2 separate regions of the Homo sapiens genome follow, and region 2 is linked to region 1. Evidence: fine-mapped expression QTL. A gene starts in region 1. The other region holds a variant in brackets. All regions are shown on one strand. Distances are between the middles of the regions. Region 1 holds the start of SLC67A1 (solute carrier family 67 member 1). Region 2 has its middle 6.0 kb from the start of CDKN1C.

Region 1 (5,247 bases):
TCTCTCTAGACTCACTTTCTGCCCCGTCACCCCACTGTACACCCTTGGTCCCAGCCCCTTCCAGTGGCTCAGCTTCCTGAACACTCCAAGCCTGGGCTCACCTCTAAGCCGTTATCTATGCTATTCTCTCAGCCAGGATGCCCTTCCCATACCCAAACAATCCGTGCTCACCTTTAAGACTGGCTGAGGCATCACCTCCTCTGAGAAGCCACCTCTCCCAAACCTGAGCCCAGATGAGCCAAAGCCCTTCCTTCCTCCAGTCAGCCTGGATCCTCTCATCCGGCAGAACTGTCGCCTTGCTTCTCTGAAGCGGTGAATGCCCTGGGGCTGGGGACGCACAGGCTCGCTGGCCCACAACCAAAGCCGCTTCCTCTGGAGGAGGAAGTCCAGGGGTGCCAGGGTTCCACTTGCTTTCTTCTTCACCCAGCCTAAAGGGCAATTTTCCCACATTCCCTCAGAACCAGGAAGTTCCCCCATTCACACTGAGCCTGTTCATGACAAAAAAAAAGGTCTCTCCGATTTCCTCTGCTCAACCAGTTCCCTGGCTACCTGAGGCCCTGCTTCACCTGGAGGAAGACAGTGGTAAGTTTCCAGCATCTCCACCACACCTCAGCGCCAGAGGACCCTCAGCCTCCCTCGCACACCTCTGGGCAGTTTGGTAACTCATCCCATCTCCTCCTGCCGCTTCATCCTCTAAGCCCTCCCCAGGGAACCCAGGAGGCGTCTGGAACCTGTTGGGGACAGTCCCTCACACCTGCCCCATTGAGTAAGGGTTCATGTGGATGCCCATCCTCCCCCAGGAGTCCCAAATCTAAGACACTCTGAGACTCCTGTCACCCACCCCCACCTTACACAGCCGGCCTTTCTGTGCAGTCCTTCCAGGAAACTCTGGCTGGACCTGGGCTCTCGGCTTGACTGCACTCTCCCCAAGTCCCCAGGGCGGCCAGTGGTGACTATTCTTGAAAACGAGCTTGGCAGAGGATCTGGGGACACGCACTCCAGATGCAAACACGTTTGCACTCTTTGGGCTGGAATCCCCTCGAGCGGTACACTGCACCCGTGGGCTTGCTAAGAAACCACCTCACAGAGGGCAGATTGATTGGACAAAAGGCATTTGGTCCCCAAATTGATTGACGTGTGTGAATGGGAGTTTTCAGAACAAAGACCCAAAGATATGGGGGAAACAGGCTGGGCGCGGTGGCTCACGCCTGTAATCCCAGCACTTTGGGAGGCCGAGGGGGGGCGGATCACGAGGTCAGGAGATCGAGACCATCCTGGCTAACACGGTGAAACTCCGTCTCTACTAAAAATACAAAAAAATTAGCGGGGGCTGTGGCGGGCGCCTGTAGTCCCAGCTACTCGGGAGGCTGAGGCAGGAGAATGGCGTGAACCCGGGAGGCGGAGCTTGCAGCGAGCCGAGATCGCGCCACTGCACTTCAGCCTGGGTGACAGAGCAAGACTCCGTCTCAAAAAAAAAAAAAAAAAAAAAAAAAGATATGGGGGAAATTGCCATTTCTGATGCTTAGGCTCAACAAAGTATGGACATCCATGCGGGAACACAGATGAACCAAGGGACCTGCACTAATGCTCCTGGACCGCAAGGGGAAGCGCAGCGAGGGCTGTTGGTCTAGATTTCTTGAACTTTCTGAGCAGCATTCCTTCCTTCTGGGCATGGAGCAGGACCCTCCTGGAATGGGGTCTTATGCCCTACAGTCAAACAAGAGAGGTCAGATAATTTATGGCCAGCTTCTAAACACAAAGGTGGAGGGAAAGTTAGAGCAATATTTTTAGGTTTGATGTCTGGCTGTGTGGAAAGGCGGGGTTCTGATTTCTATGACCTGCCCTGGGGAAAATGGATTCCAGTTTCTAAGGCCAGCTTCGGGGAAAATGGCACTGAGAGACAGGAGAGCAAGAGAAGGTCAGAGAAACACTTTTTCTTCCGAAGCTGCTTCTGAGGCCTTCATTTTGGGGTATTGTTTTCTGATGCCCAACATATCTGAGCTGCTGAACGAAGGGTAGCTGCTGAACCACTCCCACGGTGACTTGGAATGGCTTAGCCAGCCGGCCTTGGGCCACCTGGCTCTGGCCCCCCTGCCCACCAGGACTTTGGCCGGCTCTCGCTCGCCTCTGCGATGTCCGTCCCACCCTGTCTCACCCCTGCAGTTTTCTGCTCTGTGGAGCGATGATTGACACATGGCAGGGGGACACTGGTTTTGACATTTGAGCCTGTGCCCAGCCCTTGCCTGGGGAGGAGGTGGGGCAGGAGTCCTGAATGAGCATCTCCCTACTTAGTGACAGTCAGGGGCACGGAGAATGGTGCCCAGGCCAAGGGCAGGGCTTGGGCCAAGTGTGCGCAGCGTGGGGTGTGTGTGCTCCAGCGGCTCCTGCTGCGGAGGGCGGCATGAGGCTTGTTTACCTGTGTGCTGGCATCTCTGGTGGCCCCTGCAAGGGTGGGGAAGTGGCAGGCAGGGTGAAATGGGGAAAAGTGGGCTCTCAACTGCTCCTAGCAGCCTCCGGGTCTGGGGAGGGAAGTGAGGAGGGGCCCAGAGCTGTCTCCTGGTCACTCTTCTGGGGCTCTGTGCAGACCTTTGGCAGGGCCAGGCTACACCACACCCTCTACAACCTCCCCTGACTTCTTCCCCTAACCCCTCACCACCATTCCTCCGCTTTTCTCTCCCCGCCCCTGCCTCCCCTCCATTCTCTCCTTCCCTCCACCTCCCGGTCCCATCCCCTGCCCACACTGCCCCTCCTCAGGCCCAAAGTGGACACCGGTGCTGCCTGAGGGTCAGAGTGTCCACCTCCAGCAGCCCGGGCACCGGGCAGGATTCAAGCTGGAGGGGGCTGGGGCGGGCGAAGCCGGGCACGGGGCGAGCCCGCTGGTGGGCGGGGCAGGGGCGGGTCCTTCGAGGGGAGGGGCGGGCTCGGCCAGTGAGAGCGCAGAAACCGTGGCACGGGCGCTCCCGGAACTGGCGATTGCAAAGCGCGAGGGCTGGAACTCAGACCCAGAGGGGCGGTCCCTGTTGCAAGTCATCTCCCGAAAGGGCGGGGCCGGGGCTCATCCCGGAAGGACCGGTGTCTAGGTCACCCTGGAGCGCTCACCCCACCGGCACCCGTGCCCAAGCCCGCCCCTGCAAAGGCAGGTACTCGAGCACACTCCGGAGAGGGCGGCCTCTGAGCCCCGAACCCCGAACTCCGGCGCAGCGTCGCACCTCTGCCCAATGAGGTGCCCCTGACGTGCCTGCTGCGGCTGCCCTGCTCCCCCCAGCCTCCCTGCATCCCGGGATGGGGGAGGGCGCCAGGCGCAGCTCCCGGACCCTCAGGGGTCTCCCCGCCCTACCCCACCAGCCTGGGTTCGGTACCTCGGGGCTCAGATGTGCAGTCAGCTGTTAATGTGGCAAAATTTGGGGAAGTCCTCTGCAGCCGCAAAATCCAGTTCCCACCAGTTGGAGGCCGGGCGGGGAAGGGTGGGGACAGACAGCACTCCGCTGTGGGAGGTAAGGCAGAGCTACTGGGGAGCCTGGAAGGCTGAGCTATGTCTCCCCTACGCAAGACCATTCCAGAAGCCCCTTGGAGCTCTGGCTGCTGGCCACAGGGGAAGGTAGACCTTCCCTGAGAGCTGCACTGTGTTGGGGACAGGGCCACTGTGGGCCTACGGAGGGCCTCCAGGCACAGGGACCCACATCAGCCCTCTGGCCACAGAAGGCGCTGATGATTTGAGGTGGACTCAGCCACCACTCCGAGCCTCTGCCTCCCTCTAAAAGTGGGGCATGGCACATTCCTGTGTCAGGCAACCAGGCACTGAGCCTGGCCCACCTGCAGGGGTCGGGGGGAGCAGCTTGTCCCTGTCTCCCCTCCCCGGGAGGCTGTGTGCCTGGAGACCAGAGCTGTCAAAAGTGGAGGAGGGGGACCCCCTGATGTGTCCTCTAAGGTCCAGGTAGCAGGAGAGCTCCACTGGGGAGGGGGTCCTGCAGTGCTGTCCTCTCTTGCAGGCAAGGCCAGGCGGGTGCTGCCTGGGACCCAGTGACTCAGCACCCCTGCCCGGATCAACTGGACTTTTGCCCCCTGCTCCGCCAGCCTCCTGCTTGGATCTCTCCTGGGTCTCCCTGCTGCGCCTGTCCAGGATGCAGGGAGCTCGGGCTCCCAGGGACCAGGGCCGGTCCCCCGGCAGGATGAGCGCTCTAGGCCGGTCCTCGGTCATCTTGCTTACCTACGTGCTGGCCGCCACAGAACTTACCTGCCTCTTCATGCAGTTCTCCATCGTGCCAGTGAGTAACACACCCCAGCCCCTGCAGCCCCAGCCAGGGCTGAACCGCTGTTCCTCCTGCCCTCCATCTGGGCCGTCGCAGAGAGTGGGGGTGGGGGTTTCATGCTGCCAGGGCCCCTCCCAGTTGGGACTCATGCCACGCTTAAGCTGAGTAAGTTAAGGACTCTGCCTCTGGACCCCCGTCAGCACATCCTGTGCTCCAGCTTCAGTGCCAGCCCCGGGAGAAGCCATGGGGAGCCACCCCACTTCCCTCCTGGGGGCAGCACCTCCTCAAACCTTCCTAGCGCTGTTCCTCCTGCCTCTCACCCGGCAGCCTTTGCCCTCTGGAGTCCCTGCCCCAAGGGCTGTTCAATCCGGTGTGGCTCTGGGCGGATCACCCCTCAGAGAGGCTCTCCTTGCACCTGCCCGCAGCTTCTATCTCTCCCCTCCATCTTCTTGGGTCCTTGTTGTCCACTAAATGATCTGTGGCGGCAAATTGATCTCAAGCTTTTTCTTGCAAGAGATAGAATGCTGTCTTATTTTATTATCTCTGTTGCCAAATGCGGAAACATTTCATTGGCAAATTCATGTTAGTTTAGTGTATCATTCAGTAGTCTATACCACAGTGTGTGGCTCTGGAAGCTGTAATAGTAATGATTAAATTATATTCACCAAGTCTGGAGAGGCTTGGGAACAAAGTCTCACATCACCAAGAAGCTCAGGCAGAGTCAGGGCCAACCTCGGCCCTTCCTGTGTTTGCTTCTGGGAAGCCCGGCGTGCGTGGGCTCAGACAGCTGCCCTCCTCCTCTCAGCCCTCAGAGCCTGGACCTGGGCATCTAGGCGGGAGTGGGGATGGGCCTTTGGCACCATTCCGGGCCTGGCAGAGGCTCCCAGCCCGAGGGTGAGCCTAAGGATCCCTCCCCGCCGTGCCTCAGGCGCCCCGCCCACTCCTGCTAAATGGCTGGGGCCAAGCCCTGAATCTCCTCCCTACCCGTGGGGAAGGC
Region 2 (5,473 bases), 22 kb before region 1:
CCAATCAAACTACTCTAGCTGACATCCCATAACACAGAGCCAAGCTATTCTGCCAACTGTTCCCCAATTTCTGATAGAATCATAGGTATAAATAAAACCACTGGGTTTTTTTGTTTGTTTTTTTGTTTTTTTGAGGTGGAGTCTTGCTCTGTCGCCCAGGCTGGAGTGCAGTGGTGCAATCTCGGCTCACTGCAAGCTCCGGCCTCCTGGGTTCAGGCCATTCTCAGCCTCAGCCTCCCGAGTAGCTGGGACTACAGGCGCCCACCACCACGCCCAGCTGATTTTTTGTATTTTTTTGGTAGAGACGGGGTTTCACCACGTTAGTCAGGATGGTTTCAATTTCCTGACTTCGTAATCCTCCCACCTCGGCCTCCCAAAGTGCTAGGATTACAGGCGTGAGCCACCGCACCCGGCTAAAACCACTGTTTTAAACCACAAAGTGTTGGGATAGTTGTTTACTTGGCAGGAGATCATGAGAACAGGTGTAATCATGCTAACAGAAGAGGAGGTACCGGCTGCCTGTCCACACCCGACTTTATGCCTCAGTGTTGAACAGCAGAGTAGTGGCTGTGATTTGGGGCAGAAGGGAATGGTGAGTACACACAGCTGTCTGACACTGGAGCAGGCAAGCCCTGCCAAGAAAGTCCTGCCCCTGAGGGCTTTCAAGTAACAGCTAAGATCAGAGCGTTTTCTTCCTGGCGCCACTAGGTCATCAGAGGCCATTTTCATTTTTTATCCCAAGGGGCTTGCCCATGGAGCAGAGCTTGGTGATATAATCAATATCTCAGCTGCCCCTGAAACAACCACTTCAAGGCTTAAATAACACAATTTTTAATTTTCAGAATAAGCAATTGCGATTTTTTTTTTTTTTTTGAGACGGAGTCTTGCTCCGTCGCCCAGGCTGGAGTGCAGTGGTGCCATCTTGGCTCACTGCAACCTCTGCCTCTCGGGTTCAAGCGATTCTCCTGCCTTAGCCTCCCAAGTAGCTGGGATTACAGGCACGTACCACCATGTCTGGCTAATTTTTTGTATTTTTATTAGAGACGGGGTTTCACCGTGTTAGCCAGGATGGTCTTGATCTCCTGACCTCGTGATCTGACTGCCTCAGCCTCCCAAAGTGCTGGGAGTACAGGAATGAGCCACCTCGCCCAGCCACTTTTTTTTTTTTTTTTTTTTTTTGAGACAGGGTCTCGCTCACACTGTCGCCCAGGCTGGAGTACAGTGGCACAACTGATCATGGCTCACTGCAATCTCCGCTTCCCGAGCTCAAGTGATCCTTCCATCTCAGTCCCCCAGGGAGCTGGGACCACAGGTGCACACACACCACCAAAGCTGGCTAATTTTTAAAATTTTTTTACAGATGGAGTCTTGCTATATTGCCCCAAGCTGGTCTCAAACTCCTGGGCTCAAGTGATCCTCCCACCTCAGCCTCCCAAAGTGCTTTGATTACAGGCATGAGCGTCCGCACCCAGCCAGGATTTCTTCAGGATGCTAGAGTGTGGGCAGCCAGCTCCATCTCTGAGACTTTGACCCTTCCCCAAATCACAATCATTTTATTCCTTCATCAAAGAAAAAAAAGATGACTTACTAGACAGTTGTTAAGGCACTCACATAAAACTACACGATAGCAGGATAGATGGTAACCAAGAGGGAACTCAGGACCCGTCACTACCAGCTGGAAACACCTGACCTCCAGCCTGCAAATGTGACAAGCTAGACCAACACCAGCAGGACACTGAACACAGCTTGCAGGGATGAGTCTCTGCGTCATTTCTGGACATGTGTCCAAGTAACCAGAACAACTCAAAATGCCACCAGGCCCTTGCTGTCATTCCCATAAACCTCGAACAGTGAGTTGGGTCTTCAAGGAACCTGTCTCTGTCAGCTTACCTTATGCTGCATAACAAACAGGCCCAAAGCTCTTGGCAGCGTACATCAAGCATGGAGGATCTCTCACTCACCACGACAGTCCCTTCGCTGGAGGGCTGGGGTTGTACTCCATTTTCTCTTTTGGAAGGGGCGGCCCCTGTCTGAGGTCTCATTTGTCTCACAGCAGAGGGATGAAACGGCAGGACCCTGGCTTTGACGGGCTCCATTTGGCAATGGTACATGCCAAGTGGGTCACGTTTCACTGCCCAGAGCAAGTTACATGGCCACGTCTGATATTGACGTG[C/G]GGGAAATGCAGAATCTTCCTGCATTTGGGGAGGCAGATATTTGGACAACATGCAATTCATTACAGGGCCAGCTGGATGAAGAACGGCCAAGGGCCCAGGCTCTTCACCCCGAGCCAGGCCGAACCAGCCGGGGCCGTGAGATCAAGCCACGGTCATCAGTGTTCGTTTGGAATTATGCCTTGTCCTTGCCGTGTCCACATTGTAGTAGGGTTTCTGTTTTTTAATTCATCTGAAATTGGTGGTGGGTGTGGTACACAGATGAGAAACAGGAACTCTCCACGCTGGGCTTTAACAGGAGCTGCGGTGGGAACACAAATGGTGCAGCCACTTTGGAAGATAGTTTGGTGGCTCCTTACAAAACTAAATGTACCCTTCACATATGATCCGCCACACACCATCCAGCAATTGTACCCCTTGGTATTTGCCCAGATGAGTCAAAAACTTGCATCCACACAAAAACTTGCACGTGGATGTTGATAGCAGCTTTATTCATAATTGCCCAAACCTGGAAGCCTTCAGGAGGTGAGTGGGTAAACAAACTGTGGTGCCTCCGGTCAGCGGAATATTATTCAGTGCTAAAAAGAAATGAGCTCAAGTCATGGAAAGACATGAAAGAACCTTAAGTATTATTAAGTCAAAGAAGCCAATCTGAAAAGGCTGATGCTGTATGAGTTCACATCTATGACATTATAGAAAAGGCAAAACTACAAAGACAGTAAAAGGATCAGTGGTTGCAGGAGCTAGGGAGGAGGGAGGGATGAATAGGTGGGGCACAGAGGATTTTTAGGGCAGTGAAACTACCTTGTATGATACTGTAATGGTGGACACAGGACAGTAAGCATTTGTCCAAACCCGTAGAATGTACGGCACTGAGAACGGACCCTCCTGTAACCTATGGACTTCAGTTAATAATATTGAACCAAAAAATAACTAACAATAAAACAGTGCTCTTCAGACACCATTACCTGCTATGTCACCTGCTGGGAGCTGGAGGAGGGGCTTCCTAGCCCCTCCTGTTTTAAAGGCTAGGCTGGTGCTTGGCTCAGCTCTGTCCCACCCCCCCACACCAACCACCTTTGTATGCACCACAGCCCACTGGAGGGGTTTTCTGATGTCACCAGTGGAGAAAGCGCCTGCAGCAGGGACTGCTGTCTCTCTATTCATTGCTAAGTCTCTGGTGCCTGGAACAGGGGCTGGCATGCTGGAGCCTCTTGGAGTGTCCACCCAACCCAGTGCCTCTGCCCTCTGCCTGGATGGCCACAGTGTCCTTCTGGTCCCCTCACCCCCTTCCCTCTTGCTGGCGCTCCTCCTTCCTCACCCAGCAGCTGAGATGCTTCTACTACTCCCTGCTTCAGTCCCTCCGGGGCTCCCCACTGCTGGCTGACAAAATCCAATCTTTGGCACCAGTCCATCAGGCCCGGGGAGGTACAGGAGACCAGTAGGACAGGGCAGGGAAGGGGGAGGCCCAGCAGGCACACCCAAAAGACACCCTTACACTGAACCACATGTACGCCCGTGTGCCGGCCTCACACACACCAGCAGGCCAGGCCCACCAAGGCCCCCTGGCACCAGCAGCCTCCCCTGCCTTATCTCTCCTGCCTCACCCTGATCCCCTGGCTCCGACACATTCACCCTTCTCCCTCATCACTTTCATCTGGACTGTCTGTAGGTTAACGGAGCAACTGCCTGTCTTCCCAGCCCAGTCCAGGGGACAGGATAGTGCAATGGTTTCCAGGCCCGGCCCCAGAGCACCCCAGCCCAACATCCCTCTGCCCTGCCAAGGTCAGGAGTGTGACCTCAGGTGGATTACTCCATGCCTCAGTTTCCTCTTCAAACAAGGAAAACAGTGGGACCTGGTTGACGCTGATCCTGCTTAGCATATGCCTGGCACAGAGAAAAGCCATTGCTGTGTGCCTGGCGGTCCTGGTGTCATCGCTCATATGATGGTTGTGGATCCCCAGTGGAGCTGGAGCGTGACTCCCACACGGCAGACCCATGAGTGTGCTGGCTGCCAGCCGGTGCCTGTGTTTTCAGCTTGGATGAGGCCTGGGGGCCAGGACGCACGCTCCTATCTGCTCTTTCCCAACAGCATGGGTGAGAAGAGAGCTTTGCAAACAGTGCCATCAGGTATTATTTCCATGGCTGTCCCCACGTGAGAATCACAGAACACAGTGCTGGAAAAAACCCTGGACGTTTCTCAGCCCAGATGGGGAAACCGAGGCCCCCCAGAAGGAAAGGCTAGCTTGCCTGGGTCACATGTGCCCAGAGTCCCACGTGTGACTAGCAGCCCATGGAGGCTGGTGGCCTGTGCATCCCTGCAGCCAGCTCCTGCCCTGGGGAGAAACTCCTCCTGAGAAATGGCGCTGGGCCTCACCTTCACGTCCCCACAAAGGCCTCACACTGCTTTTGAGAAAGCTACCCTTGAGTGACAAGAGGGTGCTGGGCAACCACATGTCCTGTGCCCAAGGGCCAGGACTGCAAGAAGCTAAGCAAGGTAGGAGCCCCGCCGGCCCCAGCTGCAGCAGGAGGCCTGGCAGCAGATGCAGCTGTGGATGATGAGGCCCCAACCCAGCAGATCGGTCACCACAAACAGTTAACTCAGGTTACGCTGTGCACCCACTAACTGCCTGCCAGGCACCCGGTCCAGCCTCCTCCCAGCCCAAGGCAGAAGGCACTGCCACCCTCCTTTATCTCAGAAGGGAAAAGGCTTTGTCCTCCTCACACAGGTGAATGTGGAGGTTTCTCCCCTGTGGGAGAGGTTGGAAGGCCGAAGCCAGGTCTACATGGGTCTGGTCCCTCATTACCGTCAGCTGAGGGTCCCTGTTGCTGAGCCGAAGCAGCGAGACCTGCCACTCTCAGGTCCCGGGGGCATTTCCCGGAGTCTGGCCCCAGCTGGGCCTCGAGGCCAGGCCCATCACCCTCCCCGCCCAGCCCTTCCAGGCAGCTGGGGGGAGCTCAGTTAATTACATGTCTAAATACATCTCGACCATCTCAAGTTGAGCCCCCCTTTGTCCCTGCCCCCGGTGGAGGTGGGAGGAGGAAGTCAGCAACTGTCACGTAGGGCCCCGTAAGGGTCCACCAGTTCTTTTCTTCTCCCAGCCCAAGGCACCAGCAAAAATACTGCTAGCCGTTCTGTTTTTGCTATTTTACATCACCCTTTCCATTGTAAGCCATAATTTTCAGAGGTTTATAGGTCAGCTATTAAAATAATAAACGTCTCTTTTACTAAGAGGGAGCGCTTTGAAACTCGGGGCTGGTAGGGTGGACAGTGGGGGCGCACAGGGGTGCACTCAGCCTCG

The links. PIP is the estimated chance that this variant, and not a neighbour inherited with it, causes the effect. A credible set is the group of variants that fine-mapping cannot tell apart.
Region 2: its variant is the best candidate, but not a certain one, in a credible set for the expression of SLC67A1 in prefrontal cortex (BrainSeq, PIP 0.67).

Annotation. Positions count from the first base shown.
Region 1 is chr11:2,899,225-2,904,471 of GRCh38, forward strand. SLC67A1 (solute carrier family 67 member 1) reads left to right here and starts at 3,054. Exons shown (of 11, transcript NM_002555.6): 1 at 3,054-3,140; 2 at 3,990-4,265. The coding sequence starts at 4,122. It overlaps SLC67A1-AS (SLC67A1 antisense RNA), which reads right to left and starts at 4,351. Exons shown (of 3, transcript NR_169305.1): 1 at 4,235-4,351; 2 at 3,360-3,485. RefSeq lists a silencer at 3,186-3,315 and an enhancer at 4,241-4,742.
Region 2 is chr11:2,877,078-2,882,550 of GRCh38, forward strand. No RefSeq gene overlaps it. Among named protein-coding and RNA genes, the nearest start is that of CDKN1C, 6.0 kb to the right of the region's middle. The variant C/G (reference allele first, on the strand shown) is at 2,174.